4 separate regions of the Homo sapiens genome follow, and all the other regions are linked to region 1. Evidence: fine-mapped expression QTL. A gene starts in region 1. Each other region holds a variant in brackets. All regions are shown on one strand. Distances are between the middles of the regions.

Region 1 (8,000 bases):
GGTGTCTGAATACACCCCAACACGGCCCATATTCCCATATTCAGAATGCCGTCCCCAGGACCCGAGGCTAAAGCCCAGCCCCCCCGGCCCTCCCCCAGTCCTGCCCTTCTTCGGTTCTGCCATCCCCAAGCTCATCTCCAGCCCACCCCTGCGATCTGGCCTGCACATGGCCCCAAGGTGCCCCCCAAGGGTGAAGCTGGGTCCCTCCCAACAGCCCTTTCCACCCCTGTCCTCCCACCTGGGGAGTGGGGACACCTCTCCAGGACACCCCTGGCTCTGCGCAGCCTCCTCCTGCCTGCTGGCCAAACCCTGTCTGGTCACCCCAGACCACTGCCACATCCTGGAAGCCCTCAGCCGAGGCCAGGCCCTGGCCCTTCCCCGACTCCCCTGGCCTTACAGACCTCCACATGGGGTCTGCAGTGAGCAGAATCATGGCCCCCAAAGATGCCACATCCCAACCCCGGAGCCTGTGGCGGTGTCACGTTTCCCGGTTCACGAGGACTTTGCAGACATGCCTAGGCTGGGGGTCTTGGTGGGCAGCAATTGCAGGGTTCTTCTAAGAGGGTCAGAGTCAGGGAGGAGATGTGAGGACAGAAGTGGGGCTGGGAGAGAGAACGCCACGCAGCCGGCTCTGAGGACGCAGGAAGGGCTGCAAGGCCAGGAATGTGGAGGCCTCTGGAGGCCGGAGAAGGCAGAAAGTGGGTTCCCCCTTGGAGCCAGCCCTGCTGACACCTTCGTTTTAGCCCCATGAGACTCGCATCTGGCTTCTGACTTGTAGGTTTGTTCCAGCAGCCACAGGAAGCTAATCCTGGCGGTGGCTGCGCACCTGCTACATTCTCCACTCTCTGCAGGCTGAGGGGGGCCGAGACCCTTCCCCAGCCCACCTTGGAGACCCTGGGACTTGGCCCCCAACCTTCGAGGGTACTGCATCCTGAGACAGCAGCTGGCCACACGGGCCCTCAGGCCCAACCCTGCCCTGCGGCATCAGGGGCTGCGCTCGGCCCTCCAAGGATGATGAAGCCAAAAAGAGGAACCAGCCCATAGGCTCCTGGGAGGGTGCTCGGGGGCAGAGCGCTCGCTTCCTTTCCGCTTTAAAGAAGAAAGTTGGGCCGGGTGCGGTGGCTCATGCCTGTAATCCCAGCAATTTGGGAGGCCGAGGCGGGCGGATCACCTGAGATCAGGAGATCGAGACCAGCCTGGCCAACATGGCAAAACCCCGTCTCTACTAAAAATACAAAAAATGGGTCAGGCACGGTGGCTCAACGCCTGTAATCCCAGCACTTTGGGAGGCCAAGGTGGGCGGATCACGAGGTCAGGAGATCGAGACCATCCTGGCCAACATGGCAAAACCCCGTCTCTACTAAAAATACAAAAAATTAGCCGGGCATGGTGGCGGGCGCCTGTAGTCCCAGCTACTTGGGAGGCTGAGGCAGGAGAATGGTGTGAACCCAGGAGGCGAAGCTTGCAGTGAGCAGAGATCGCGCCACTATACTCCAGCCTGGGTGACAGAGCGAGACTCTGTCTCAAAAAAAAAAAAAAAAAAATGAGCCAGGCGTGGTGGCGGGTGCCTGTAGTCCCAGCTACTTGGGAAGCTGAAGCAGGAGAATCGCTTGAACCCGGGAGGCAAAGGTCGCAGTGAGCCGACATCGCACCACTGCACTCCAGCCTGGGTGACAGAGCGAGACTTTGTCTCAAAAAATAAAAATAAAAAAAGCGGGGGGGTGGTGAAGAAGAGAAAAGGGCACAGTGGCTCACGCCTGTAGTCCCAGCACTTTGGGAAGCTGAGATGGGAGGATCACTTGAGCCCAGGAGTTTGAGACCAGCCTGGGGAACATGGCACAAAAATTAGCTGGGTGTGGTGTGGGATGCCTGTGGTCCCTGCTACTGGGGGCTCGGGGCTGAGGCAGGAAGAACACCTGAGCCCGAGAGGTGGAGGTTGCAGATCGCACCACCGCACTCCAGCCTGGGCGACATACCAAGACTCTGTCTCAAAAAAAAAGGAAATTTGGACACAGACAGGGAGGGAAGAAGCCCATGAGAAGACAGAGGCAGAGACTGGTGGCACGGCCACGAGCCAAGGCGCCCAAGGATTGCCGGCAGCACCAGAGGCTGAAGAGGCTGGAATGTCCCTTTCCTAGAGCTGTGGGAGGGAGCAGGGCCCTGCCGACACCTCGATTTTGGACTTTTGGCCTCCGGAACCATGAGAGATAAATGTCTGCTGTTTGAAACTGCCTAGTTTGCGGTACTTGGTTGCTACAAACACAGAGAACACACGTGGTGTCTGGACATGCTGGGCCTGCCCCAAGGCCCCACCGCACGCCTGGGCTCCCTGCTCTGCAGAGTGTGCTGTGTGCCCACCCCAGGGGTCCTCTAATCCCCGGGGTCTGGCCTCCAGTGTCGAAGAGGAGACCAGCAGAGGCCTCCTCCACCCCTGGGTGGGATCAGACAGCCTGGCCAATGTCCACCCTCAGGCCTGGTGTCTCCAGGCCACGGGGACTCCTTAAGGCAAGGCATCTGGGAGATTTGGGAAGCGCCAGTGCTGAGGCAGGGTCTGCTGAGGTTTGGAGGCTGCAGAAGAGAGGGCCCCAGGGTCCCAACACCCCTCCCCGCTGCAGACTAGTACCTCTGGGCCACACAGGCCAGGAGACCCTGATCCCCCTTGCCTTGGCCCAGACCCCAGGGGAGGAAGTTCTCGGCTCCACCTGTCTCGCCCCACTCCTTGGGGAGGGCAGAGGCACCAGGACCCCACCCCGCAGAGGCTCACAGGCAGGCTGGCTGCTCTGTCCATCTTCCTGCCTCGCCTGGGTGGCTTCAAGTGCCCCCACAGGTCCTGATCTAACCAGCGCGGGTCCCTGCCCTGGTCCAGCCCCCATCTCCCTGCAGGAGCTCCAGGCTCCCTGCTCTGACACGTGGCCCTGCCCCATGCTAGCCCCCCTGCTTCAAACCTTCGGAGGCCCCCAGTGCACCCGGAGAGGCCTCGCCCTGCCTGAGGGGTGGAGGGCCTGGGCCTCTCAGAGACTCTCTCTGCCCTCCTTCCACCCAAGTCCAGCCTGGGAACCCTGCCCGGCAGCTCCACCAGCCCCTGTAATCAGCTCTCTGCTGTCAACACCCATCCCGGCCTTTCCTGGTCCCCACCTGGCCACCCTGCATCCCCTCAGGCGCTGCTTGTGACATTCTCCAAACCAGACCCCGTGTCTCATGACATTTGGGACCCCTGGGTCCAGACAGGCCTAGTCCCACCCGCGGCCATGGGCGGACGAATGGAAGGAAGAACAACAATAAAATAGAGACGAGGGGTCTGTGCGACCAGCGACACCTGCTAGGATGGGGGCGGCTGTGGAAGGTGCCTGGGACGCCGCGGACGCAGCCAGGCCACGGTGGGCGCGGCTGGACGGAGCCGCCGGGGACGCGGGAAGCGCCAGCTCCCGGACACCTGCGGACGCCCCCTCTGCCCGCGCCCCGCGCCCCGGCCGCCGGCCTCACCTGCGAAGTTCTTGGTGAAGACCAGGGTGACCAGCAGGATGGGCACCAGCACGGTGCCGATGGTGACCACCCGGTCGAACGGCAGCTCCAGCTTCAGCTGCAGAAGCAGCGCGGCCAGCGCGCCCGCCTTGTCGTCCTGCGCGCCCGGCAGGATCAGCTCCCGCAGCTTCTCTCCCGCCAGCAGCGCGGTCGCCATGTCCGCCGACTGCTCCAGGAGGTGGTGCATGGGGGGCGGGGGGCGCGGCCCGGCGGGGGGCGCGGGCGGGGCGGGGGGCGCGGGGCGGGGCCCGGCGAGGGGGGCGCGGGCGGGAGGGGACGCGCGGCGCGGGGGCGGGGATCGGGGAGCGTGGGGGCGCGGGACGGGGACGGGGCCGCGGGCCGCGGGAGAGGGTGGCAGGGGACGCCGGGACCGAGCGGGGGGCTCCGGGGGATGGGAGTAGCCGGAGGCGCGCGGCGGGTGCGGGGCTGGCCGGGCGCGGAGCCCGCAGCGGGGTTTGGGGGGCGCTCCGCCGCCGCCCCCGGGGTCAGGGGGCGGGCGGGCCGGGCCGGGGCGGCGGCGGGGGGCACCGGAGCCGCCCGCCTCCGCCGCAGCCCGGCCCCCGCCCTGGCGCGTGCCTCCGGCGGGGGCGGCGGCGGGATCCCGGCCCGGAGCGCGGGCGGCGGCTGCTGTCCCTGCCTGGGGCCGGCGGCCCCGCTCCCGCCGCGGGGAGGGGGCTGTTTACCTGCGGCGACTCCGCGGCGTGGCTCCGCCCCACCCCGCCCCCCGCCACGCAGATGCGGCGCGGGCGATGACTTTGCAGAAAATATTGAAATGAAATGAAAGGACATGAATGAGTAATGACCGGTCCCTCTTCCTGGGAACGCGGGGTGGCTGGCGGGGGGCTGCCCCGGCCCGCGGGAGGGTGGGCAGGGGTGGGGGCGGCCCTGCGGGGCTCCGGGCTGGGGCGGGGGCGCCGCTCGGTGGCGACGTGAGGACTGGGCGCGCGCTGGGGCTGCCCCCGTCGCATCGCAGGGCCCTTCGCCCAGCCCAGGGCGCAGAGGGGGCTTCCTCGCCTGGGCCCCCCACCTGCCCCGGCCGCGCCCCGCTGTGGGTCCGGAGGTTCCCGCGCTCCTGGGGTGCTGCGGCCACTGGCGGGGAAGCCGGCGCTCTCTTCTCTGGGCTCGGGCGCCAGTGCGCGGGCAATGAGGGCATCTCCCCGCCCCACACCCTCCACTGCAGCCCCGGCCCCACCCGACCCCCCCACCCAGTACCCCCAGTCCCGCCGCCGTGAGTGACCCCATCACCCCCGCTCCTGCAGCCCGCACCTCCTTCCCCCACGCCCCATCCCGTCCCCTGTTCCACAGACGTTCCCGGGGCCTGTGCCAGCTCAGGGGGTCCCCGCCGCCTCCCTGACCTTCATTCCCTCCGCTCCCCACAGCCCCGCCCTCCGTCCTGTTCTCCCTCGGGGAGCCGGGGGTCTGGCTTCAGACGCGGGCGCATCCCGCGTGGTCCCTGCCTCTTCGAGGCAGCCGTTTTCCCTCGTGCAGGTCCCCTTCCCACTATACCAGGACGAACGTGCACGATCTTTCATATAAAAGATTTAGTGTGATTGGAGTTTTAAGTTCATTCAATAATTCATTCCAAAAATGTATTTTGAGCCCGTGTTCACAGGCCCGGCCACTGCTGTGAGCAAACCAGGAGGTCCCCCTGCCTCCCTGGGCTGCGTAGGGGATGTGTCTGCTTTGAGCTTTCACGCCGTCTGCGTTTTTAAAGATCCTTGCATGTTTTCTGAGGGATGCCAGCCCCTGACTTCCAGCAAACTTCATCCTGAGGCAGGCAGTTCAGCTACATCCAATCCCAGCACCCAACCACCCAGTCACCCCAGATAAACCCAGTCACCCCAAATAACCCAGGCACCTCCAGATAAATCAGCCCTGGCAGATAACCCAGTCACCCTGACAACCCAGGCACCCCAGATAAACCAACTCACCCCCCGATAACAGTCACCCCTACCAGATAACCCAGTCACTGCCAGATAAACCAGTCACCTCCCAAATAACCCAGTCACCTCTCACATAACCTATTCACCCCAGATAACCCAGTCACTGCCAGATAAACCAATCACCCCAAATAACCCAGGCACCCCTCACATAATCTATTCACCCCAGATAACCCAGTCACTGCCAGATAAACCAGTCACCTCCCAAATAACCCGGGCACCCCTCACATAACCTATTCACCCCAGATAACCCAGTCACTGCCAGATAAACCAATCACCCCAAATAACCCGGGCACCCCTCACATAATCTATTCACCCCAGATAACCCAGTCACTGCCAGATAAACCAGTCACCTCCCAAATAACCCGGTCACCTCTCACATAACCTATTCACCCGATAACTCAGTCACTGCCAGATAAACCAGTCACCTCCCAAATAACCCAGTCACCTCTCACATAACCTATTCACCCCAGATAACCCAGTCACTGCCAGATAAACCAGTCACCTCCCAAATAACCCAGTCACCTCTCACATAACCTATTCAACCCAGATAACCCAGTCACTGCCAGATAAACCAGTCACCTCCCAAATAACCCAGTCACCTCTCACATAACCTTTCACCCCAGATAACCCAGTCACTGCCAGATAAACAATCACCCCAAATAACCCGGGCACCCCTCACATAACCTATTCACCCCAGATAACCCAGTCACTGCCAGATAAACCAATCACCCCAAATAACCCGGGCACCCCTCACATAACCTATTCACCCCAGATAACCCAGTCACTGCCAGATAAACCAGTCACCCCAAATAACCCAGTCACCTCTCACATAACCTATTCACCCGATAACTCAGTCACCCCCAGATAACTCAGTCATCCCAGATAAAATCATCATCCCCAAATAACCAAGTCACCCTTCAGGTAACCAGATAAACCAGTCATCTCCTAGATAACCGAGGCACCCCTCAGATAACCCATCCCGTATAACCCAGTCACCCCCAGATAACCATCACCCCAGAGAACCCAGCCACCCCTCACATAACCAAGTCACCCCCCCTCCCCGACAACTCAGTCACTCCCAGATAACCCAGTGCAGTGAGTTCCAGCCCCTCCGAGCGACCCGAGTGTGGCTGCTGGGTGGCTGCCTTTGTTTTCCAGATGCACTTTCTGCTTTCGCATGGGTGCCTCTCCATGCTTTCCAGAAGTGCTCGGCCAGTCCATGCTCTCACCATCCCTGTCTTCTTTCCAGCTCTCAGCCCTATCCACCTTCTAGTATCTGCCATTCTCGGGGGGAAGGGGGGGCGGGTGTAGCTTCCAGGTGCTTTGAGTTTATCTCTAGCGGTTTGTGTGCACGCTCTCTTCAAACCCTGAGCACTGCATCACTGGTCAGAGCTCACTGTAACCCTGAACTCCTGGGCTCAAGCAATCCCCCCACCTTGACCCCCCAAGTAGCTGGCATTATAGATGCACGCCACCATGCCCAGCTTTTTAAAATTGTTACTATTATTATTATTTTTTTGAGACAGAGTCTTGCTCTGTTGCCCAGGCTGGAGTGCAGTGGCGCGATCTCGGCTCACTGCAAGCTCCACCCCCCGGGTTCACACAATTCTCCTGCCTCAGCCTCCCAAGTAGCTGGGACTACAGGCACCTGCCACCACGCCCAGCTAATTTTTTGTATTTTGTTTTTAGTAGAGACGGGGTTTCACCGTGTTAGCCAGGATGGTCTCGATCTCCTGACCTCATGATCTGCCCACCTCAGCCTCCCAAAGTGCTGGGATTACAGGCATGAGCCACCACACCCAGCAATTTTTACTATTATCTTTTGAGACAAGGTCTCACTCTGTTGCCCAACCTGGAGTGCAGCGGTGGGATCTTGGCTTACTGCATCCTCCATCTCCTGGGCTCAAGGGATCCTCCCACCTCAGCCTCCTGAGTAGCTGGGACTGCAGACATGCACCACCACACCTGGCTAATTTTTTTGAGAGATGGGGTTTCGCCATGTTGCCTAGGTTGGTCTCGAATTCCTGGGCTCAAGTGATCCTCCTGCCTCAGCCTCCCAAAGTGTTGGGATTACAGGCATAAGCCACTGCACCTGGCCTTAAAATTTTTTTATCTGTAGAAACGGGGTCTCACTATATTGCCCAGGATGGTCTCAAACTCCTGATCCCCCCACCCCCACCCAACCCAGCCTTGGCCTCCCACAGTGCTGGGATTGCAGGCATGGGATTACAGGTGTGAGCCACGCTGGGACTGCAGGCATGAGCCATGCTGGGATTGCAGGCGTGAGCCACGCTGGGATTGCAGGCGTGAGCCACGCTGGGATTGCAGGCGTGAGCCACGCTGGGATTGCAGGTGTGAGCCACGCTGGGATTGCAGGCTTGAGCCACGCTGGGATTGGAGACGTGGGCCACGCTGGGATTGGAGACGTGGGCCACGCTGGGATTGGAGACGTGGGCCACGCTGGGACTGGAGACGTGGGCCACGCTGGGATTGCAGGCTTGAGCCACGCTGGGACTGGAGATGTGGGCCACGCTG
Region 2 (8,000 bases), 72 kb after region 1:
ACCGCAACCTCTGCCTCCCAGGTTCAAGCGATTCTCCTGCCTTAGCCTCCAGAGTAGCTGGGATTACAGGCATGCACCACCACGCCCAGCTAATTTTGTATTTTTAGTAGAGACGGGGTTTCTCCATGTTGGTCAGGCTGGTCTCCAACTCCCAACCTCAGGTGATCCGCCCGCCTCAGCCTCCCAAAGTGCTGGGATGACAGGTGTGAGCCACTGTGCCAGGCCTGATGCTAATTATTTTCTTTGTTCACTTGCTTACTGTCTGTTCTCTCAAAATGCGAATTCTCTGAAGCAGTGTCTAGCACAGCAAGCACTCTAATAATTTGTTGAATTAACGTCAAGAAGGAAACAGCATCTTCTGACTCTCCCACAAGCAAATGAAAAATTTAGCATAATTCTTCCTTTTGCCACCTTTAGGTCAGAAGTTATAAATAAAGTTTTATGAGGACACAGCCGCACCTTTTGCTCATGTACAGCTATGTCTGCTTTCAGCTACGTGGTACGACCATCCTGTGGGGAGGAGCTTTGAAGGAGACGGTGCTTGACCGGTTTGCTGATCTCATTAGATACTCTGTATCAGCCTTTTTGCACATTGTATTTTCTCTTTCAAAAAAGTTCTTTTGCTGTGGTCCTTAGGTTTTGTGATTGTGTTCACAGCAATTCTGACATGTCTGAGTGTGACTCTCTCAGCCTCAAGAGGACCTGACTTTGCCTCACTTGAGGTTTTTTATACTGGGAAATCCCTTGGCCTGGGCTCCGGATCCCTGCCCATCTTTATTACTCAGGGGACACCTTCTCTTCTCTGCCCCATCAACATCTGCAACATCAAACATTTCTGGTTTTCTTCCTCTTGAGCCATTTCCTGGCGACACCCCTGAGAGGGGCTTCCTGTTAGCAGGGTTGAGGGGCCTCCATGATTATAGGCGCCTTTCCCCAGAACTGAGCGTTTCTCTGGCAGCACAGAGATTCTAAAATCCCAATAGACACCTATCAATTTCATCTTGGGGATCCCAGGGTTAACAACCAAGGTCAAGGCTGGGCACAGTGGTTCATGCCTATAATCCCAGCACTTTGGGAGGCCGAGGTGGGTGAATCACCTGAGGTCAAGAGTTCGAGACCAGCCTGACCAACATGGCGAAACCCCGTGTCTACTAAAAATACAAAAATTAGCCAGGTGTGGTGGCACACAGCTGTAGTCCCAGCTACTCAGGAAGCTGAGGCAAGAGAATTGCTTGAATCCAGGAGGTGGAGGTTACAGTGAGCCACCACTGCACTCGAGCCTGGGCAACAAGAGCGAAACTCTGTCTCAAACAAAGAAAAAAAAAACAAAACCCACAAAAGGTCAGGCGCAGTGGCTCATGCCTGTAATCCCAGCACTTTGGCAGGTGGATCACAAGGTCAGGAGATCGAGACCATCCTGGCTAACACATTGAAACCCCGTCTCTACTAAAAATACAAAAAATTAGCCAGGTGTGGTGGCGGGCACCTGTAGTCCCAGCTATTCAGGAGGCTGAGGCAGGAGAATGGCATGAACCTGGAAGGCGGAGCTTGAAGTAAGCCAAGATTGTGCTACTGTACTCCAGCCTGGGAAACAGAGGAAGATTCCGTCTCAAAACAAAAACAAAAACACACATACACATAAAAACCAAGGTGAAAAAGAGTGAGACAGCAGCTTCCTGGTGGGCAGAGCTACCCCCCAGACCTCCCACCCCCCAGCTTAAAGCAGAAAACTTCTATTCATCTTCCAACAGGCAGTGCTGTGGGCTGTGCAAATGGACTTCAGCTCAGAAGCCACTTCCCCAGGCAGCTTTTCCAATTCCTGCCCTACCACAATGTATGCACAGGTCTGTTTCTCCTGGGAAAGAAGAAACAGACCTGAGTATGGAGTCCAGCTCCGTCTTCACCACCATAGGCAGCAGGAGTAGAGTAAACCGCTGCTGAGTTCAGCTCAGTCAATGACATCGACATATTCTTTCTTTAGGTATAAAAACAAATCCTTTGATCAGCCAAAAACAAATGCAATAAAAAATGGATATATAAAGCCGGGAGTGGTGGCTCACGCCTGTAATCCCAGCACTTTGGGAGGCCAAGGCGGGCAGATCACAAGGTCAGGAGTTCAAGACCAGACTGGCCAACATGGTGAAACCCTGTCTCTACTAAAGACACAAAAAGTTAGCCTGCTGTGGTGGTGGGCACCTGTAGTCTCAGGAGGCTGAGGCAGGAGAATCGCCTGAACCCAGGAGGCGGAGGTTGCAGTAAGCTGAGATCGTGCCACTGCACTCCAGCCTGGGCGACAGGGTGAGACTCCATCTCAAAAAAAAGAAAGAAAGAAAGAAAGAAAAAGGATATATACTTTAGGAAACGTACAATGTCATCCCCAAGCCCTATTTTAAAACATCTAAAGTACTTTAAATAGTACCTCAGCATGCCAGTAACACTAACTTAGATCATAACACTATAATTATATGGAAGCAACAACTACCCAGAAATTACTGACTGCATTTAACAAATGAACACAAAACACATAAAAGCACAAGTTTAAACAGTGACCTGGCTGGGTGTGGTGGCTCATGCCTGTAATCCCAGCACTTTAGGAGGCCGAGGCAGGTGGATCACCTAAGGTCAAGAGTTCGAGACCAGCCCGGCCAACCTGATGAAACCCCATCTTTACTAAAAATACAAAAAATTAGCTGGGCATGGTGGTGCACACCTGTAATCCCAGCTACTCAGGAGGCTGAGGCAGGAGAATCAATCAAACCCAGGAAGCAGAGGTTGCAGTGAGCTGAGATCATACCACTGCACTCCAGCCTGGGCAACAGAGTGAGACTCCATCTCGAAAAACAAAAACAAAAACAAAAACAAAAAAAACAAAACAGTGACCTGGTGCCCTCTCCCATAGTCCACTCAATATCCAAGAGCCTCTGTGTGAAGCCAGCACCTGGAGAAGCTACTCTAATCCCGAAACCCTCTCAACAAACAAAGCATGCCCAAAACTGATCCCTTCAATGTTGTGTGTAGCCATCACAAATATAGACACAGGGTTGTGTTCTGTCACCCAGGCTGGAGTGTAGTGGCTGGATCATAGCTCACTGCAGCCTCCAACTCCTGGGCTCAAGCGATCCTCCTGTCTCAGCCTGACAAAGTGCTGGGATTATAGGCATGAGCCACCGTGCCTGGTCCATAACAATTCTTTAAAAGACAAAACCTAATTTTCAATGTGGAACACAGACCCCTGAGCATACCTTCGCACACACTCTCCAGAGAGAAGTAGGTGGTCTGACTGATACAGCCTGCGCCCTCCACCAGGGAAGTCACACAGCCAATCAACACTCGGGGGCCGCAGTCTGAGGGACTCCCATGGTTTCTGCTGTC[G/A]TCTTCCCACTTATCAGAGACAGCTTCTACCTGTAAAACAAACACACCGCTCTAAACCATAATACGAGAACTACAAGAAAAGCAAACTACAGGCTGGCATGCCTGTCTGAGACCATTAGGGCTGCAAGTCCAAGATCAAGGCCCTGGCAGATTCCGGGTCTGGTGAGGGCCTTCTTCCTGGTATACCGTCGGTGTCTTCCTGCTGTGTCCTCACATGGCAGAAAGGGCAAAGGGGTTCTCTGGGGTATGTTTCATAAGGGCTCTGCCCTTGTGACCCAGTCACCCACCAAAGCCTCCTAATAAGATTCCACTGGGGTCAGGATTTCAACATACGTATTTTGGGGGACACCAACATTGAGTCTATAGCAATCCCTTATGAACACTGATGCAAAAATCCTCAATGAAATATTATCAAACCAAATGCAGCAGCATATTAAAAGGATTATACCCCATGACTAAGTGGGGTTTATCCCAGAATGCAAAAGTGTTTCAACATATGAAAATCAGTCAACATATTACATTGATAAGATGAGGGAAAAAATCACGATGATCTCAACTGATGCACAAAAAGCATTTGACAAAATCAACACTTTTTATGATGCAAACACTCAATAAACTAGGAATCGCAGGAAATCTCTTCAACACGAGAAAGGCCATAAACAAAAATCTCACAACAAACACCACACTCAATGGTGAAAGGCCGAAAGCTTTCCCCTAAGATCAGGAACCAGGCAAGGATGCCCATGCTTACTTCAAGACTTTCAAATTTCAATTATCTTTATTCACAGATGGTAGGATCTCATCTGTGGAAAACTCTAAAGATTCCACACACGTAAATGAAACAAAAAATGGTTAGAGCTAATAAATGAATCCAGCACAGGACACAAAGTCAACATACAAAAATCAGATTTCCATACATTTGCAATGAAAAATCCAAAAAGGAAATCAAGAAAAATGATCCAAAGAAAGGGAAAACAATTCCATTTATAACAGCACTGTTAGGTTAATAGGTTAATTCCTCAGAACACTTAGTAACCTAACTAAGGAGATGGAAGACACGTAAAATGACACTAATGAATGAATTAAATACCTCAATAAACAGCAAGACAACCGCGTTCATGAATTGGAAAACCTAATATTATTAAAATGACAATCTTAAGACTTAATTATTAAGATGATAATACTACTCAAAGTGATTATGTGATTATTAAGATGTTAATCTTAATAATTATTATTAAGATGTTAATCTTAATACTTAATTATTATTAAGATGACAATCTTAGACTTAATTATTAAGATGACAATACTACCCAAAGTGATCTATTACACAAATTCAGGTTGGGTGTGGTAGCTCATGCCTGTAATTCCAGCACTTTGGGAGGTTGAGGCAGGTGGATCACTTGAGGTCAGGAGTTCAAGACCAGCCTGGTCAACATGGTGAAACCCCATCTCTACTAAAAATACAAAAAAAATTAGCTGGGTGTAGTGGCAAGCACCTGCAGTCCCAGCTACTTGGGAGGCTGAGGCATGAGAATTGCTTGAACCAGGGAGGCGGAGGTTGCAATGAGTCAATATCACATCATTGCACTCCATCCTGGGTGACAGAGCAAGACTCTGTCTCAAACAAACAACAAAAAAACCCAACAAATGCAACGCAATCCCTATCAAAGTCCTATGGGTCTATTTTTATATAAATAGAAAAACTCATCTAAAATTCTAATGGAATCTCAAGGGACCATGAATAGGCAAAATGGTCTTGAAAAGGAGTAACAAAATTGAAGGTTTCATACCTCCTGATTTCAAAACTTCCTACAAAGTTACAGTCATCAAACTAGTGTGGCACCAGTGTAAGGACAGAAATATAAACCAATGGAATAGTAAAGAGACCCAGAAATAAACCCTTGCATGTGCAGTCAATTGATTTTTGACAAGGACCATTCAATAAACTGCAATTGTGCAGTCTCAAAAAAAAATAGTGCTGGGAAAATAACCATGGGCAAAATAATAAAGTTAGACTCTCGTTTTACACCAAACACAAAAATTAACTCAAAATGGATTAAAGAGGCCAGGCGTGGTGGCTTACCCCTATAATCTCAGCATTTGGAAAGGCGTGGGATGGGCGGATCACTTGAGCCCAGGAGTTCGAGACCAGCCTGGGCAACATAGAGAGGCCCCATCTCTACAAAAAATACAAAAATTGGGTGAGGCAGCACACACCTGTAGTCCCAGCTGCTCAGGTGGCTAAGGTGGAAGGATCACTTCAGCCTGGGAGGTTGAGGCTGCAGTGAGCTGTGACTGTGCTGCTGCACTCCAGCCTGGGCAACAAAGTGAGATCCTGTCTCAAAAAATTTTTTTTAATGAATCAAAGACTTTAATTTAAAAGCAAAAACTATAAAACTCTTGGTAGAAAAAAATCTTCATAATCTTGGATTAGTCAATGGTATCTTGAGTGTGACATCAGAAGTACATGCAATAAAAGAGACAAATTAGACTTCCACCAAAATTTAAAACATCTGTGCATCAAAGGATACCATGAAGAAAGTGAAAAGACAATTGATAAAATGAGAGAAAGTATTTGCAAATCATGTATGTGATGAGAGATTAATATCCAGAATATATAAAGAATTCCTACTACAAGAAAACAACCTAATTTCAAAACGGGCAAAGGATTTGAGTAGATATTTCTCCAAAGAAGATATATAGATGGCCAATAAGCACATGAAAAGATGCCCTCACAAATCATTAGGGAAATGCAAATCAAAACCACAGTGAGATACTACCTCACAACTACGAGGAATAGCTACTGTCAAAAGAAAAAAAAAGAAAAAGAAAATAGCAAGTGTTGGCAAGGATACAGAAAAAGTGGCAGCCTCATGCACTGTTGGTGGGAACATATAACGGTGCAGCTGCTGTGGAAAACATCTGGTTCCTCACAAAGTTAAACCTAGACTTACCATACAGCCCAGCAATTCTCTTCCTAGGCGTAGCCCCAAAAGAACTGAACAAGGACTCAGACAGACTTGTTCATGGCAGCACAATTCACAACAACCAAAAAGTAGAAACAACCCAAGTGTCCATCAACAGATGAATGGAGAAACAAAATGTGATTTATTCACACAATGGAATATTCAGCCATAAAAAAGGAATTAACTTTTGATACATGCTACATGGGCAAATCTTGAAAACAGAAGTCAAATAGCCAGACACATGATTCCGCTTATATGAGGTATTTAGAATGGGCAAATTCATAGAGACATAAAGTAGAACACTGAATAACTGTTTAATGGGTACAGAGTGTCTACTGGGATGCTGAAAAAGTGCTGAAGACAGATTGTGGTGATGGCTGCGCAACAATGTGAACGTGCTTAATGCCACTGAACCGTACATTTCAATATGGTTAAAATGGTATATTACGCATATTTTACCACAAGAAAAATATCTAAATAAAAAATAAATCCAGAAGTACATTCAGGTTTATACCAAATGGGGATCATTCCCATCAAGTGAGAACGGCTCACAACACAGAAACTGTATTTTCCACCATATTAATAGCAAAGGGACAGAAACTATGGGATCATTTGGAAGATACTGAAAAGTACTTGAAAAATCCATTACTAATTTATAAAAGCAAGATTGTGAGTAGAGATGAACCCTCTTCACCATAACAAAAAAGGTCCTGCATTCCTTACAAGATGGAACAAGTGAAGGGCAGCTGACCACCAAGAGGGCTGGGATTTGCTGGACACCCAGGGGCCAGTTTTTCCACATTGTCACATTTCTGAGATCAGAATGAGTCTCACAACCTACGTTTCCATTTTAAATTTTCATTATCAAATTAATGGTGTATCTTAAAATCAACGGGAATTTGGTATGAGAACCTGCTTTGGAAGGCCGCGTGTGAGTACACGACCACAGCTCAGAGAATGAGGTAAACATCATCTCTACAGGTTCTGGGTTCCAGATCCTCTTTCAAAGATTCTGAACCCAGAGTACTCCTTTAAATACACACAAAAACATGAGGACTATCGTATAATTTCAAGTTCAAAAGGAAATCTTTGGAGGAAAAAATATAATTAAATAATTGGGAGAGGAAAAGAGGGTAGTGTGAATGAGCCAGTTGTACATCTCTGATGATGGAAGTCCATAAATACTAACATTGGTGAATTAATAAAAGATACAAGCATATTGTTTAAGTGACTCAACTATCTACCAGATAAGGTAGAAACAGAAACCCAGAAGAGCATCAGGTCTGCAGCATGAAAGTGCAGGTGGGGAACGTGGAGGGAGGCTCTTCTACTTTGCATTCACAGTCTCTAAGCCAGAGCTGACAGAAATGTTCTCTATGTGTGCTGCCCAATTTGGTAGTCACTAGGCTTCAGTTAGCACTTGAAATGTGGCCAGGGAAACTGAGGAAACACTTTTATTTATTTATTTTTAAGAGACAGGGTCTCTATGTGCCCAGGCTGGTCTCGAACTCCCGCCTCAGCCTCCCGAGTGCTGGGACTCCAGGTTTATGCCACCGCGCCTGGCTGTAAGTTGCATTTAGTTTTAATAAATCGAAACTGCTGCACATGAGTGGTGGCTACCATATTGAATGATGGAATTCTAGACTTTGAATTATTTTATTG
Region 3 (8,000 bases), 44 kb before region 1:
AGGTGTTTGCCCCCAACGCCCCGGATGTGCTGAGCTGCCTGGAGCTCAGGTACAAGGTCAGCAGCAGCCCTGGCCGCGGGGGATGGGACAGGGGCCTGCCTGCCTGTGGGATGCCTGCTGAGCCACGCCTCCTGGCAGGTGGACTGGCCTCTCAACATTGTCATCACCGAGGGCTGCGTGAGCAAGTACAGCGGCGTCTTCTCCTTCCTGCTGCAGCTGAAGCTCATGATGTGGGCGCTCAAGGACGTCTGCTTCCACCTCAAGCGCACAGGTGAGGCCCCGCTGGAGCCCGGCGCCCCGCACCCCTGGCTGGAGGCTGCGCTCACCTCTGCCCTCTGCCTTCTGCCCTCCGCCAGCCCTGCTGAGCCACATGGCCGGCTCTGTGCAGTTCCGTCAGCTGCAGCTGTTCAAGCACGAGATGCAGCATTTCGTGAAGGTCATCCAGGGCTACATCGCCAACCAGATCCTGCACGTCACCTGGTGCGAGTTCAGGGCCAGGTTGGCCACCGTGGGCGACCTGGAGGAGATCCAGCGTGCGCACGCAGAGTACCTGCACAAGGCCGTCTTCAGGTGAGGCCTGGGCAGCGGCTGCGTCCCTGTGGTCACGGCTCAGCCCACCCAGCAGCACTGCTTCCCCCCAGGGGCCTGCTCACGGAGAAGGCGGCGCCCGTCATGAACGTCATCCACAGCATCTTCAGCCTCGTGCTCAAGTTCCGCAGCCAGCTCATCTCCCAGGCCTGGGGGCCCCCTGGGGGCCCGCGGGGTGCAGAGCACCCCAACTTTGCACTCATGCAGCAGTCCTACAACACCTTCAAGTACTACTCCCACTTTCTCTTCAAAGGTGAGGCCCACCCTGGCTGGGAGGGCTGCGGGGGGGCCAGGGCGGGGCTCACACTGTGGGCAAAAGCCTGAGCTGCTCGCTGGTCCCCAGTGGTGACCAAGCTGGTGAACCGCGGCTACCAGCCCCACCTGGAGGACTTTCTGCTGCGCATCAACTTCAACAACTACTACCAGGACGCCTGAGGCTGCTCTGCGGGGGACGTGCACAATAAAGGTGTTCTCGGACCCTGTCTGCAGCTCTCTCTCCTGGGTGGGGGCTGAGGACAGGGCAGGGTGGGGGAACAATGACCACAGAGACAGACTCGAGGGAGTTGCTGGTTTATTTAGGAGCCTGGGTCCAGCCCCCAGGGACCAGGCTGCACTGCTGAGCCGGCCTCAGACAGAGACGGGTCAGGTCCTGACTGGATGTCTCTGCCATCATGGAAAGACGGGTGTGCATGGGCCAGGGCAGAATCCCCCAGTGTATAGGGCAGCCTGGCATCATCTTGGCCACTCAGCAGCACATGGGGGCCTCGGGAGACTCCAGGGGTGTGGAGCGTGCCGAGGCCGTTACGAAGATCATGTCACGCACAGTTCTGCTGCCCAGAGCGGGGGCTTACTGCTGTAGGAGCGCTGCCTGCCGTCCGCCCCGTCGGCTTCCGTGGCCTCGGCGTCTGTGGCGGCCCCCGCCTCGCAGTGGTAAGGGGTCTCCAGTAGTTTCAGCACCCGCCGCACCTGGAGGATCAGGAGGGTGAGAGGGGTCTGGGGCCGACCCCCCTCCCAGGGACCACAGGGACAGGCGTGTGCTTGCCTCTGAGAAGTCCCCGCGCTCGGCAGCCTCGATGGCATTCTGCGCGATGTAGTTCCTCAGCACGTACTTCGGGTTGTTGGCGTGCATCACGCGCACGTGCTCAGCCTGCCAGGCGGCAGCGTCCCCAGCGCCTTCCAGGTCCTTGTCCAGCCGGGCTCTGGAATGACATCCGGGCTCTGGAGTCACAGCCGGGCTGGACTTTTTCCAGCACGCGACCCGCCGTCCCCCGGTGACCATGGACGCAGGGCTCACCTGTACGCCTGTAGCCAGTCAGCCCAGTGGCCCTGGTTCCTGCTCTGCAGCTCTGCCGCACTCAGCTGCTCCAGCCGAGACTGCTGCTCCACACGCTCCAGCTCCCTGGCGATGCCTGCCCGGGTGCCCATAAGCGCGAACAGCTGCGGGTTTGACTGCGCCAGCATCAGCATCATGGATAGCTGCCTGTGGAGAGGCCAGGGTGTCTGGGAGGTAGCCCCTGACCGTGTCCCTGCCCTGCAGGCAGCTGCTCCGCCTGCCCCAGCCCGCTCTCACGGCTCACCTAGAGTCCAAGGGCCCAAGCAGCCCGGTCCCCGAGGTCCCTGGAACCCCACTGGCAGGGATGGACCCCAGTGGGCACACACCAGGCATGCCCATGCTCGGCCAAGGCCCTTTGTGGGCCGAGGGGCAGGACCACTCTGCTGCCCAGCTTTCTGCTGGAGAGTCTCCACCTCCCGAGTTTAATGCTTGTGGGATGGGCACTGCTGTTAGCACTTCCCTCATTTCCAGAAGGGTCCAGGTGGGCAGGGGCCACGCCTTCTCCAGTGGAGGGGGTTTATGCTCAGCAGGGCCTGCTGGCCGGTGCTCCCAGCCAACCCCACTGGTCTTGTTTTTTAAGTTAAAGCAACAATATTTTCCACGTCTCATCCTGCACGTGGGCGGGACTCTTCAGACAGGGCAGCCCTTCCCTTTGGAAGATGGTGTGGGAAAGCTTGACCTCTGGGAGCCCATTCTCCCTAGAAACCCAGAGGCTTTCTCTGAAGCCCACCCACAGCAGAGACCACTGTCTGCCCCCACACCTGTGTCAGCCTCGCCACTCTCTACTCTGTGACCAACCGGCCCCAGCATCGCAGAGATGCCCTGAAGCCCTGACTGAATCTGTCCCTGGGAGCGGAGCAGCCACCTGGGCCCCAGCCAGCTCTGTCTCTAGCTTCTCCCCCAGCCTCTGTTTCTGATTATGCTTCCTTTTCTGGAAACAAATCCAAAGAAGTAGGAACTGAGTACCCACCGGGGATCCATCTGGGGCCGGAAGGCCAGCCTCAGCTCCTCCAGGGAGGCACACTGCTCCATCAGCCTGGCCAGGAATTCCGCCAGGCCTGGCGACTCTAGCTCCACTGGGAAGGAGCTCAGCAAGTAGAAGGTGTTTGTGAAGTCGGCACCTGGAACACAGGCTGCTCAGGGAGCTGGAAGCAGAAGGCCCAGGGTCCCTGTCCTGGTGCCACACAGACCCCCCCCCCCCCACCCCCCTGGCACAGGTGCTGCATGGACCCACCCACATGCTCCACCACCGCCCCCCACCGCCAGCACGGATCCACACGCTCCCTGACCCACACCCTCCACCTGGCACAGTGCCATACAGACCCACACCCTCCCCCAGCACAGGTGCCACACGGACCCACACCTGGCACGCATGCCACAGAGACCCACACGGACCCAAATGCTGCCCCCAGCACAGGTGCCACACAAGCCCCGCTCAGCATTGGTCCTGGGACTCCTGAGCCCTCCACACCCCACTCCTCAGCCTCCACCCATCCACCGCCCAGGCAGCTGCCATTTGCTCACCCTCCAAGTCACCTGTGAAGTGGCCTAATACTGAGAAGGCAGAGGCTGCTGCCCGGCCCTCACATCCTCACAGTCACAACTGCCTGCTTTGGGAGCTAGCGAGTGTTGAGAAGCTGCTGTAACCCGCCTGCAAAAGGCCCAACTTGTGACAGACACTGCGATCCTCCCCCTGACTCTGGAAAACACTGTCTGAAACCACAGTGACCCTAAGACTGTCTTAAAAACAAAATGAGAAGGGAGTCAAAGCAACGTACTGCAAAAAAGTCGACTACACACAAAGGTAGCAAGGGAGAACGTGAGCGACCAGAAACATGGCAGAAGCTCCCCCTCAGTAACTGCTTTGAAAGCGAATGGACTGATCGCTCCAACAAAAGGCAGATTGGCAAAGTGGGTGAAAAGACGATTTCCATGTTGTCACCACACGATCTGCAAGACGTTCAAAGACACGAACAGGCTGGAAGTGAAAGGATGAAGAAACCCAGGCAAAGAGTAACCTAAAGAGAGCTGAGGCGACTCTTAAACTCACAGCAGATAAGTTTTCTATTTTTTGAGACGGAGTCTTGCTCTGTTGCCGGGGCTGGAGTGCAGTGGCGCAATCTCGGCTCACTGCAACCTCCGCCTCCTGGGTTCCAGCAATTCTCCTACCTCAGCCTCCCGAGTAGCTGGGATTACAGGCATCCGCCACCATGCCTGGCTAATTTTTGTTTTTTGAGATGGAGTCTTGCTCTTGTTGCCTAGGCTGGAGTGCAGTGGCGTGATCTCAGCTCACTGCAACCTCCGCCTCTCCTGCCTCAGTCTCCTGAGTAGCTGAGATTACAGGCACCCACCACCATGCCTGGCTAATCTTTGTATTTTTAGTAGAGATGGAGTTTCACCATGTTGGCCAAACTGGTCTCGAACTCTTGACCTCAGGTGATCTGCCTGCCTCGGCCTCCCAAAGTGTTGGGATTACAGGCATGAGCCACCATGCCCGGCCAGAGAAGATTTTAAATAAAAAATTGTCAGAAGGGCCGGGAAAGGTGCTCACCCCTGTAATCCCAGCTACTTGGTAGGCTGAGGCAGGAGGATAACTAGAGCACAAGAAGTGGAGGCTGCAGTGAGCCGCAGCTGTGCCACTGCACTCCAGCCTGGGCAACAAAGTGAGACACATCCACCCTCAACAAAAAGTCGTTACAAGAGACAGCATTATATATGGATAAAAGAGTCAATTCATCAATAAAAATGTAAAAATTATAAACATGCACCCAATAAGAAAGCCCAAAAATGTAAACGTTGGCAGAATGGAAGGGACAGACAACAAACAGTTCTATCTATAGTAAGAGTTGGAGACTTAAACACACCACTTAATAATGGATAGACCATCTAGGGTTGGGAGCGGTGGCTCATGCCTGTAATCCCAGCACTTTGGGAGGCCGAGGCAGGTGGATCAC[G/T]AGGTCAGGCGATCAAGACCATCCTGGCTAACACGGTGAAACCCCGTCTCTACTAAAAATACAAAAAAATTACCCGGGCGTGGTGGCAGGCGCCTGTAGTCCCAGCTACTCGGGAGGCTGAGGCAGGAAAATGCCGTGAACCTGGGAGGTGGAGCTTGCAGTGAGCTGAGATCGCGCCACTGCACTCCAGCCTGGGTGACAGAGCAAGACTCCGTCTCAAAAAACAAAAAAACCATCCAGACAGAAGATCAATGAGAAATGGAAGACCTGAACAACAGCCTAAACCAACAAGACCAAACAGGCACATACACGGAACCCTCCACCCAGCAGAAGAGAGCACACCGTCTTCTCCAGGGCACACGGGTACAGGACGCTCTGCCCAGCAAAAGAGAGCACACCGTCTTCTCCAGGGCACACAGAAAGTTCTCCAAGATAAGCCACAAAACAAGTTGTAATAAACCTCAAAAGGCTGACATCTCTAGTCACAATGGAATGAAGCTAGAAATCACTTAAAAACACAACACACTGGCTGGGCGCGGCGGCTCATCCCCAGAATCCCAGCACTTTGGGAGGCTGAGGCAGATCACTTGCGATCAGGTGTTGGAGACCAGCCTGGCCAACATGGTGAAGCCCCATCTCTCCTAACAGTACAAAAATTAGCTAGGTGTGGTGGAGCATGCCAGTAGTCCCAGCTACTTGGGAGTCTGAAGGAGGAGAACCACTTGAGCCTGGGAGGCGGAGGTTGCAGTGAGCCAAGATCATGCCACTGCACTCCAGCTTGGGCGACAGAGTAAGACTCCGTCTAAAAACCAAAAAAACCCACAACATACCAAAATTGATGGACACAGCAAAAGCAGTGACCAGAAAGACATGCACAGTGTAAATGGCTACACTGAAGAAGATCTCCAATCAGTTACCTCAACTCACGCCTAAGGAACTGGAGAAAGAAGAGCCAAGATTAGAGGGAGACAATAGACTGAAGAAACAGGCACACGCTGCGTAACTCCACTTACACGAAGATTAGAGGGAGACAATAGACTGAAGAAACAGGCACACGCTGCGTAACTCCACTTAAACGAAGATTAGAGGGAGACAACAGACTGAAGAAACAGGCGCACGCTGCGTAACTCCACTTACACGAAGATTAGAGGGAGACAACAGACTGAAGAAACAGGCACACGCTGTGTAACTCCACTTACATGAAGGGTTTAGAGCAGTCAGGTTCACAGACTCGGAGCGGAGTGGTTGCTACCAGGGGCTGCAGGGAGGGGAATGGGGAGCTGGTAACCGGCTCACACAGGGTTTGGGTGGCGGATGTGAACAAGCTCCAGGGCTCGGCTGTACAGCACTGCTCCTGCGTCAGCTGTGATGTGCGGTGCCCTCCACAATTTAAGAGGATAGATCCATGTTGTGTTCCTACCACAATGAAATTGTAAAAAACTGCTACGAACAATTATATGCCAAAATTACCTACAAGACATGGACAAACTACCTGACACAGAAAATTCCTGGAAACATAAATTACCAAAACTGACTCAAGAAGAAAAGAAAATCTAAATTGAGGTAAGGCAAGCAAGGAGACTGATCAGTAATCAAAATTTTTCCAACAAAGAAAAGCCCAGGACCAGATGGCTTCACTGGTGATTTCTACCAAATACTCTTACGAACAAATGGCAATCCTTCTCAAACTTTGAAGGAAAAAAATGGAAGATGTGCGCATACCTCCTAACTCACTCTGAGGCCAGCACCACCTTGACATCAAAGCCAAACAGACACTAAAGAAAAAGCAGAACTCTAAGCTAGTATCCCTTACGCATACAGATGCAAAAATCCTCAAAATACTCGCAACATTCAGCATATTAAAATAATTATACAGCATATGGCTGGGTGCGGTGGCTCACGCCTATAATCCCAGTACTTTGGGCGGCTGAGGTGGGCAGATCACCTGAGGTCGGGAGTTCAAGACCAGCCTGACCAACACGGCGAAACCCTGTCTCTACTAAAAATACAAAATTAGCCGGGTGTGGTGGCGGGTGCCTGTAATCCCAGCTACTTGAGAGACTGAGGCAGGAGAATCACTTGAACCCAGGAGGTGGAGGTTGCAGTGAGCCAAGATCGTGCCACTGCACTCCAGCCTGGGCAACAAGAGTGAAACTCCGTCTCAAAAAATATTAAAAATAATAATCATATAGCATATTAAAAGGACCAAGTAAAATTTATCCCCAGAATGCAAGGAGATATGAATGAAATAATAAAACCACATGACCATCTTCATTGCAGGAAAAAGCATTTGATAAAATGCAATAGCTTTTCATGGTAAAAGCATTCTGAAAGAAAACTTCAGCATGGTAAAAGCCCACAGCTAACATCACACTCAATGGGTGAAACACTGAACACTTTTCCCCGAAGGTCAGGAACAAGAAAAGAATGCCCATCTCAGCTCCTTCTGTTCAACATACACGTCCTAGCTAGTGCAACCCAGTGAGTCACCCACACGACCCAGCAATCCTACCACCTGTACACCCCACGGAACTGAAAGCAGGGAGTCAGAGATCTCTGCATTCGCTTTCATGGCAGCACGGCACACAACACACAGTGCACCGTACGCAACAGCCAGAAGAGGAACACGTACGCCAGTATGTCGTGGATAAGCAAACTGCGGCCTGTCCACACAACGGGATGCTTCTCAGCCTTCAAATGGAATAAAATCCTGATACGGACCTGGGTGAACATTGAGGACCTTATGCTAAGTGAAATAAGCAGTCACTACAGAACAAGCACCGTATGACTCCACTCGCAGCAGGTCCTAGATTCACCAAATTCATAAAGACAGAGAGTAGAATGGGGGTGCCAGGGCTGGGGTGGGCCCAGGGAGTGACTGTGCACTTGGAACCTGGAAGCCAGAAGGTAAACCATCTCTAAGCACAACAGCACGGGAGGCGCCTTGCTGTGGGCACGGCTGGGTCACTCACCGGTCAGATGCATGGTCTCCAGGAGCTTGGACACCAGCGCCCCGTCTTCCTCCAGCTCCACCTGCACGAGGCCCAGCTTCCTGCGCATCTTCTGCAGGTAGTGCCTTTGGAACTCGGCGTCAAACTCCTCGGCCAGGATGGCCTCCCCCAGCT
Region 4 (8,000 bases), 38 kb after region 1:
CCCAGCACTCTACTCTGTCAGCTTTATCCCCCTTGTCCTCCCCACCCTTCCAAATGCTGTCTCTGTACTCAGGTCACTGCACTCCGCCTGGGCTCCCTCTTGGTGCTCTCTGGCCTAGACACTCTCGGAAGGCTGTGAGTTGGGAAAACCATGAGGTCACCTCATTTGTTTCCTCTCTCAGGAATCCCTGTCCTATGATAGCTGATGTTAATGTCTGAAATTGTTGTTCCATATAGTTTGTCTGATTTTTTATTGTTTCAGGAAGGAAGATAAATCTGGTCCCTGAAATTCTATCTTGGTTGACATATGAAATATTCTTGAGTTTATTTTCAATCTAGTTAATCCATAAGAAGATAAAGTTTCAGGTTTTAAAACCTACAGTCAATTAGGAATGTGCCCACCTAAATAGTAACACCTCCCTGATCTCACATGCCATCTGCACCACAGACTCTCCCCGAGAATCAGGCAGTAGAATGAACCAGTAATGAGGTGATGACGGAGAAGAAAAGCACTGTCCAAGGAAGACTCTTTTCTATTTGCAGAACAAAAAAGAGATCAACTATGAAATATGCCACAGATGACTTTCAAGGATAACCTCTTGCTGCTTCATTTGTCGTATTTTCCATGATTGTATAGGCATTCTAAACCTATCATTTTTGCATTTTGGGGGAGGAACTATAAAATGGTGAGCATTTTTGAGTATTAGATATAATTTAAAAATTCATGTTATACATTGAAAACATGCTCATAAAACCAAATTTGAATAGCACAAAATAAGTTGTAAGCTCCACCATGACACAGATGATTTTCTTGTTACTAGAAACATGAAGATAAATAAAACCACTTCTATTGTATTCACAAAAATATACTGAGAGCCCAGGACAATACCTGGCATGTAATAGGCACTATATTACTATTTATGGAGTGACTGGATTATAGAAGCTTTTTTTTTTTTTTTTTGAGATGGAGTCTCGCTCTATTGCCCAGGCTGGAGTGCAGTGGCGTGATCTCGGCTCACTGCAACCTCTGCCTCCTGGGTTCAAGTGATTCTCCTGCCTCAGCCTCCTGAGTAGCTGGGATTACAGGTGTACACCATCATGCCCGGCTAATTTTTGGATTTTTAGTAGAGATGGGGTTTCACCATCTTGGCCAGGCTGGTCTTGAACTCCTGATCTCATGATCTGCCCGCCTCGGCCTCCCAAAGTGCTGGGATTACAGGCGTGAGCCACTGCGACCGGCCTAGAAGTTTTTATAAAATATCTTTGCAACATTCACAAAGTTTGCAAATGTTAACAATTTGCGGGGTGTGTATCCTTCCAGACATTTTCCATGCATACACAATCACATAAATGTACCTAAGTGTACACATAAACCATATAATTTAAAAATAAAACTCTAAGGCCGGGTGTGGTGGCTCACGCCTGTAATTCCAGCACTTTGGGAGGCCGAGGAGGGTGGATCACAAGATCAGGAGATCGAGACCAGCCTGACCAATATGGTGAAACCCTGTTTCTACTAAAAATACAAAAATTAGCTGGGTGTGATGGCACATGCCTGTAGTCCTAGCTACTCTGGAGACTGAGACAGGAGAATCACTTGAATCTGGGAGGCAGAGGTTGCAGTGAGCCAAGATTGCACCACTGCACTCCAGCCTGGGTGACAGAGCGAGACTCTGTCTCAAAAAAAAAAGAAAGAAAAGAAAAAAGAAAAAGAAAAAACCCAACTCTAAGGTCATATAAACATCTGTACTTTGCTTCCCCTATTTAATATATTGTAGCCATCTTAGCCCTGCATCTTAGCCCTTGCATATAAACTTTACACTAAATCTATTTTTGAATATTTTAGTTCACTTTATTTTAACTGCAATTTTGAGTTATTTGTGAACCACACTGCTCTAATACTCCAGTCAACTAAGCGCTAATACTCCGAGAAGGAAACGCCCACCCCCTGTGTAGACAGTTACATCGCTGAGCCATCCCCTGTGTAGAGACAGTCACGCCGCTGAGCCACCCCCTATGTAAAGACAGCCACGTCGCTGAGCCATCCCCTGTGTAGAGAAAGCCACATTGCTGAGCACTACCTTTTTGCTGGTGGACTGTCCACTGCTTTTGGTGTCTTGTGCATGGTTCCAATTTCCCGTCACTTGTGGAGACTGTAAAATAATTTCTTCTGGAAACAACACTTTTAAAACAAAAAATGGTAAGAGCACGGGTATAACTAAAAAGCTAAAAAAATATTAATAGAGGTTGTTTATGGCTGACCCTAAAGCAATTAATATTCTATTCCCTTCCTTTCTTAACCTGCCTGTTATACTGTTTCTAAATTATAGCATTATTAGTACTGCATATTCTTCACAACAAAGCCCTTTATTTGCCCATCTGTAAAAATTCATAAATTACATTTATGAAGGGAAAAGCGAGCAAGATAAATTTATTTTCGGTTATTTAAGCATGCTATTATTAGTTATTCACTAAGTTGAAATAGTAAGAAAACACTAAAACTTGATAGAAAATTAAAAACATGAATATAACAAAAGTTTTACTTCTAATATTATGACTGAAGAGACTATTTTACACAAAATTTTACATGAAGCCTATAAAAATACTCTGTGAAGATGTAACACTATCATTCTATAAAAGTAATACCTTTTACACCTAAGTGGATGACGTGTTCAAGTGCAAAGTGACACCGTCTGCTTGTGGTCCTGCAGGAAAGAAAACCACATAAAATAACTAACCTTACATTCAGAAATATTAAGGCTGGCATAAGGTAATGAAAATTTTATGATACAATCTTTAAGTCAATATAAAAAAATCACAGCAACAATCCAACAATCAATGAAATAGAGAACAGAAAAACACTAGAGAGGACGGGCGCGGTGGCTCACGTGTGTAATCCCAGCACTTTGGGAGGCCGAGGTGGGTGGATCACCTGAGGTCAGGAGTTCGAGACCAGCCTGGCCAACATGATGAAACCCTGCCTCTACTAAAAATACAAAAATTAGCCAGGCATAGTGGTGGTGCACGCCTGTAATCCCAGCTACTCAGGAGGCTGAGGCATGAGAATCACTTGAACCTGGGAGGCAGAGGTTGCAGTAAGCTGAGATGGCACCACTGCACTCCAGCCTGGGTGACAGAGTGAGACTCTGTCTAAAAAAATTTTTGTAAAAACCACTAGAGAATACCAAAGAAGCCAAAAAAAAAAGCATGGGACAAAATCCCACACCCATTCTTTCTTTCTTTTTTTTTTTTTTTTTAGAGACTCTGCTCTGTTGCCTAGGCTGGAGTGCAGTGGCACAGTCAGAGCTCACTGAAGCCTCAAATTCCTGGGCCCATGTGATCCTCCCACCTCAGCCTCTCAAAGTGCTGGGATTACAGGTGTAAGCCACCACACTTGGCCCCATATCCATTCTTGATTAAAAACTCACTAAAATAAGAATCTATCTCCTCAACCTGATAGAGGGCCACTACGGAACCTACCACCCACGCTGTACTAACTCGCTCAGGACTGACAGCCCTGCCCCTAAGACCAGGGACAAAGCCAGTGCAGCACTTGCCACCACTTCTATTCCACACTGGCACACAAGTTCCAACCAGCGCAGGAAGGCAAGGAAAACAAATACACAGCATCCAAATAAGAGAAGAAGAAGTAAAACTGTCTTTGGTTTTTTTTTTTTCAGACGGAGGCTTGCTCTGTCGCCCAGGCTGGAATGAGTAGCGTGATCTCGGCTCACTGCAACCTCCGCCTCCTGGGTTCAAGCAATTCTCCTGCCTCAGCCTCCCAAGTAGCTGGGATTACAGGTGACCACTACCACGCCCGGCTGATTATTTGTATTTTTAGTAGAGATGGGGTTTCCCCATGTGGGCTAGACTGGTCTCAAACTCCTGACCTCAGGTGATCCGCCTGCCTTGGCCTCCCACAGTGCTGGGATTACAGGTGTGAACCACCACACCCAACCTAAAACTGTCATTCTTTGAATCAATGATTATATATGTAGAAAATTCTACAGACTCTAGGAGAAGCTACTGGAGCTATTCAGTTTAGGAGACTTGCAGGATACAAGGTAAACATACAAAAATCAATTGCTTTTTATAAATACTAGAAACAAGCAATTAGAAATTTAAGTTAAATTTACTGTTTATAACAGCCATTTAAAAATTTTAAATAGGTATAACTGACAAAAGATCTATAAGACCTATACACTGAAAAGTATAAAATATTGCTAAAAGAAATGAAAACAGATGCAAATAAATGGAGAGACATACCCTTTTCAAGGGCTGGAGGACT[T/C]ATTATTATTAAGATTTCAATTCTCCAATTCTCCCTTAAACCGACCCATAGGTTCAATGTAATCCCAATCAAAATCCCAACAGGCTTTCTGTAGAGACTGACATGACCTAAAATCCATGTAAGAAGAAAGACCTGGAACAGCCAGACAACCTTGAAAAGGAACAAAGTTGGAGGCTTGATACTACCTGATTTTGAGACTTATCATAAAGGCACATATCATACACTAGGTTTGTGTTCCCCCCAGCTTCGTATGGTGAAACTTCATCCCCAATGTGATGTTACTGGGTATGAGGAGTTGAGGCCTTTGGCAAGTGATTAGGTCATGAGGGTGGGGCCTCATGAATGGAATTAGTGCCCTTACACAAGGGAGCACAGAGAGCTCTCCCATCCCTTCTGCTGCGTGAGGACACAGGGAAAAGACAGCCGCCTACGAACCAGGAAGCAGTCTCACCAGGACACTGAACCTGCTGGTGCCTTGACCTTGGGCTTCCTGACCTCCAGAGCATGAGAAATACATTTCTGTTGTTTATAAGCCACCCCATCTATGGTGCTATGCTAATGCAGCCTGAGTGTACTAAGACAGACAATAAGACCCTGTAATGTTGGTGTCAAGACAGACAAGTGTACAATGGAACACAACAGAGAGTCTTCAGAAACAGATCAACAAATATTTGGTCAACTGATTTTCTTTTTTTTTTTTTCACAAAGGTACAATAGTAATTCATTGGAGAAAGGGCAGTTTTTTCATCAAATAATGCTTGGACAACTGGATGTTCATTCCACCCTCCAATTTCCATTCATACCCCACAAACAATTTGCAAAGCTTAATGAGATAGATCATAATCCTAAATGTACAGGATAAAGCTGCCAAGTTTCTAAACAGGATAAAATCGTTGAGATCCAAATTAGTTACAGATTTCTGAGATGCATCATTAAAAGATCTGTGAAAGAAAACATTCATAAACTGGACTTCACCAAAATTAATAATTTCTGCATTTCAAAAGGCACTATAAAAACAATGAAAATACAAGCTGTAGTCTGAGGAAATATTTGCACAGACACGTATCTGATAAAGCACTGTACTGAAACTATACAAACATCTCTGCAAACTCAATCATGAGAAAACAATTTTTTAAAATGGGCCCAAAGACTTGAGGAAGGACTTCAACAAGTATTTTGTACAAATGGCAAAAAAGCACATAAAAAGATGTTCAGTGGCCGGGTGTGGTGGCCCACACCTGTAATCCCAGCACTTTGGGAGGCCAAGGTGGGCAGATCACAAGGTCAGGAGATTGAGACCATTCTGGCTAACACAGTGAAACCCCGTCTCACTAAAAATACAAAAAAAAAAAAAAAAAAATTAGCCGGGCGTGGTGGTGGGCACCTGTAGTCCCAGCTACTCGGGAGACTGAGGCAGGAGAATGGTGTGAACCTGGAAGGCAGAGCTTGCAGTGAGCCGAGATCGTGCCACTGCACTCCAGCCTGGGTAACAGAACGAGACTCCGTCTCAAAAAAAAGAAAAAAGAAAAGATGTTCAGCATCATTAGTCATTAGAAAAATACAAATTAAATCCACAACGAGATATCCCTTCACACTACAAGAATCAGCTCTGTTCCAGAGTCAAAGCAGGTCAAGGAGTCCAGGCCTGGACGTCGGCTGCAGTCTCTCTAGCTGCCATGATGGAGGCTGTGTGCCTTCTACCAGCGCTGCTGCTCCCTGTGGTCCCAGCCAACCCTCACACGTCATCATCCAACACAGCTGCCCCTTCCTTCCCATTCCTGGGTCTTCTCATGGCACTCACATGCTGGGGTCTCTCATCTTGCACAGCAAACAAAAAGTACCCCCCTCCTGGTCCTCCTGTATCTCTTTGGTCACCAATTTCTCTCGCTCTCTCTCCATCCTGCCCTCCCTGCTTTCATCGGCAAATGCCTTAAAAAGGAATCAACGACATTTCTCCATTCCCCCGTAGTCCATTCATTCATTCTCAATACATTCCAATCTGGCTGTAGCCCAAATACTGCCGATTTCTCAGACAGACATAAAAAGCACTAATATTAAAAAAAATTTGATAAATTTGACTATATTAAAACTAGCACCTTCTGTTAATAAAAAGACATATATATATAAAATTTATTTATTTATTTATTTTTTGAGACAGAGTCTCGCTCTGTCTCAGGCTGGAGTGCAGTAGTATGATCTCAGCTCACCGCAACCTCCGCCTCCTGGGTTCAAGCAATTCTCCTGCCTCAGCCTCCCAAGTAGCTGGGACTGCAGGCATGTGCCATCATGCCCACTAAGTTTTGTATTTTTAGTAGAGACAGTGTTTCCCCATGTTGGCCAGGCTGGTCTCGAACTCCTGACCTCAAGAGATCCACCTGCCTTGGCCTCCCAAAGTGTTAGGGATTACATCACACCCAGCCTCAAAAGATACTTTTTAAAAAGCTAAAAGATAAGGAAGAAATCTGGAGAAGATATGTACCTAAGAATAGTTTATCATAAGGAATACAGAAAGGACTCCCACAACAATGAAAATTGGATAAATTACTCAATAAAAAAGAGGGCAAAAGACGCAAGCAAGCATTTCATGGAAGAGGAACATTTTACGGCCCACGAACAAGAAGATTCTCAGCCTTGTAAATAAGTCAGAGAAAAGTAAATCAAGACCATCATGAGATGCATTACACACCTACCAGACTGGCACCAATTAGGAAGTCGAACAAAATCAGATTACAGAAAGGGCACCGATCAGCAGGCTGTTATACACATGGATACTGAAAGTCACTGATGCAACCACTTGTAAAGCTGGAAAAACCCCAAACCCAGCAATCCCATCCCTACATACACAGCAGCTCTAGGAACAGCAGCAAACAATCGTAACAGCAAACAATGAAGATGTCCATCAACAGAAAAACAGCGGGTATTCACACAACCGCAAACCAATGAACAGCAGTTACAACAACACGGAGACATCTCAGGAACACAATGTTTAGTGAAAATCTCGACTCCTAGGAACCAAATACAGCAAGTTACTCCTTTTCTAAAGTTCAAAAGAATTAAAACTGAAGAATACATTTTTTGTGCATGACTAGTTAATGGTTTTGTGGAGGAAGAAAAAGCCAGCTGGGTGCCAGGTCACAGCACCCCTCATCCGACAAGAAAACAAATAAAAGTAAGGAGCTGGTAGCTGACGGTGACAGTGAGGCATGAACCAAAGATCCGGTGCACATGAGATCTGGGAAAGAATACACATGCAAATGTATGCACCTTTATATCTCAAAAAATAGTTGATAATAAAGCTAGAAACACGGGGTATGCAAAAATGCTGTAGGAGCCCACTTCCATCCACAAGGCCTATACACGTCAACCACAGGCATGGTGGGGGCTCCTACGTCACTACTTAGATGTCAACAGACATACTCAAGAGAACACTGTCCAATTAAAGATAAAGAGACAAATTAACTGGGCATGGTGCCTCATACCTATACTCCCAAAACTTTGGGAGGCTGACGCAGGAGGATCGCTTGAGCCTAGGAGTTTATGACCAGCCTGGGACCCCATCTCTATTAAAAAAAAAAAAAGATGGCCGGGCGTGGTGACTCACGCCTGTAATCCCAGCACTTTGGGAGGCCAAGGCAAGCGTATCACAAGGTCAGGAGTTCAAGACCAGACTGGCCAATATGGTGAAACACTGCCTCTACTAAAAATACAAAAAT

Direction of the effects. Alleles are on the strand shown, and positions count from the first base shown. SD is a standard deviation of normalised expression in the study named. Not every link is listed here.
With allele C in place of T in region 4, the expression in testis of the gene that starts at base 3,709 in region 1 is higher (small effect, 0.34 SD a copy in GTEx).

The links.
Region 2: its variant is fine-mapped to the expression of PANX2 in whole blood (INTERVAL, PIP above 0.99).
Region 3: its variant is fine-mapped to the expression of PANX2 in whole blood (TOPMed, PIP 0.98).
Region 4: its variant is fine-mapped to the expression of PANX2 in testis (GTEx, PIP above 0.99).

What each region holds. Positions count from the first base shown.
Region 1 is chr22:50,166,440-50,174,439 of GRCh38, reverse strand. It overlaps PANX2 (pannexin 2), which reads right to left and starts at 3,709. Exons shown (of 3, transcript NM_052839.4): 1 at 3,484-3,709. The coding sequence starts at 3,709. RefSeq lists an enhancer at 2,184-2,876 and a silencer at 4,476-4,535.
Region 2 is chr22:50,094,845-50,102,844 of GRCh38, reverse strand. MOV10L1 (Mov10 like RNA helicase 1) reads right to left here. Exons shown (of 27, transcript NM_018995.3): 3 at 3,243-3,402. Among named protein-coding and RNA genes, the nearest start is that of MOV10L1, 8.8 kb to the right of the region's middle. The variant G/A (reference allele first, on the strand shown) is at 3,373.
Region 3 is chr22:50,210,759-50,218,758 of GRCh38, reverse strand. It overlaps SELENOO (selenoprotein O), which reads right to left. Exons shown (of 9, transcript NM_031454.2): 5 at 7,848-8,000; 6 at 2,892-3,042; 7 at 1,883-2,068; 8 at 1,631-1,787; 9 at 1,143-1,554. The coding sequence ends at 1,390. It overlaps TUBGCP6 (tubulin gamma complex component 6), which reads left to right. Exons shown (of 25, transcript NM_020461.4): 21 at 1-56; 22 at 139-271; 23 at 357-570; 24 at 642-841; 25 at 932-1,065. The coding sequence ends at 1,023. Among named protein-coding and RNA genes, the nearest start is that of SELENOO-AS1, 4.6 kb to the right of the region's middle. The variant G/T (reference allele first, on the strand shown) is at 4,876.
Region 4 is chr22:50,128,711-50,136,710 of GRCh38, reverse strand. MOV10L1 (Mov10 like RNA helicase 1) reads right to left here. Exons shown (of 27, transcript NM_018995.3): 14 at 2,646-2,704; 15 at 2,081-2,181. Among named protein-coding and RNA genes, the nearest start is that of PANX2, 38 kb to the left of the region's middle. The variant T/C (reference allele first, on the strand shown) is at 4,288.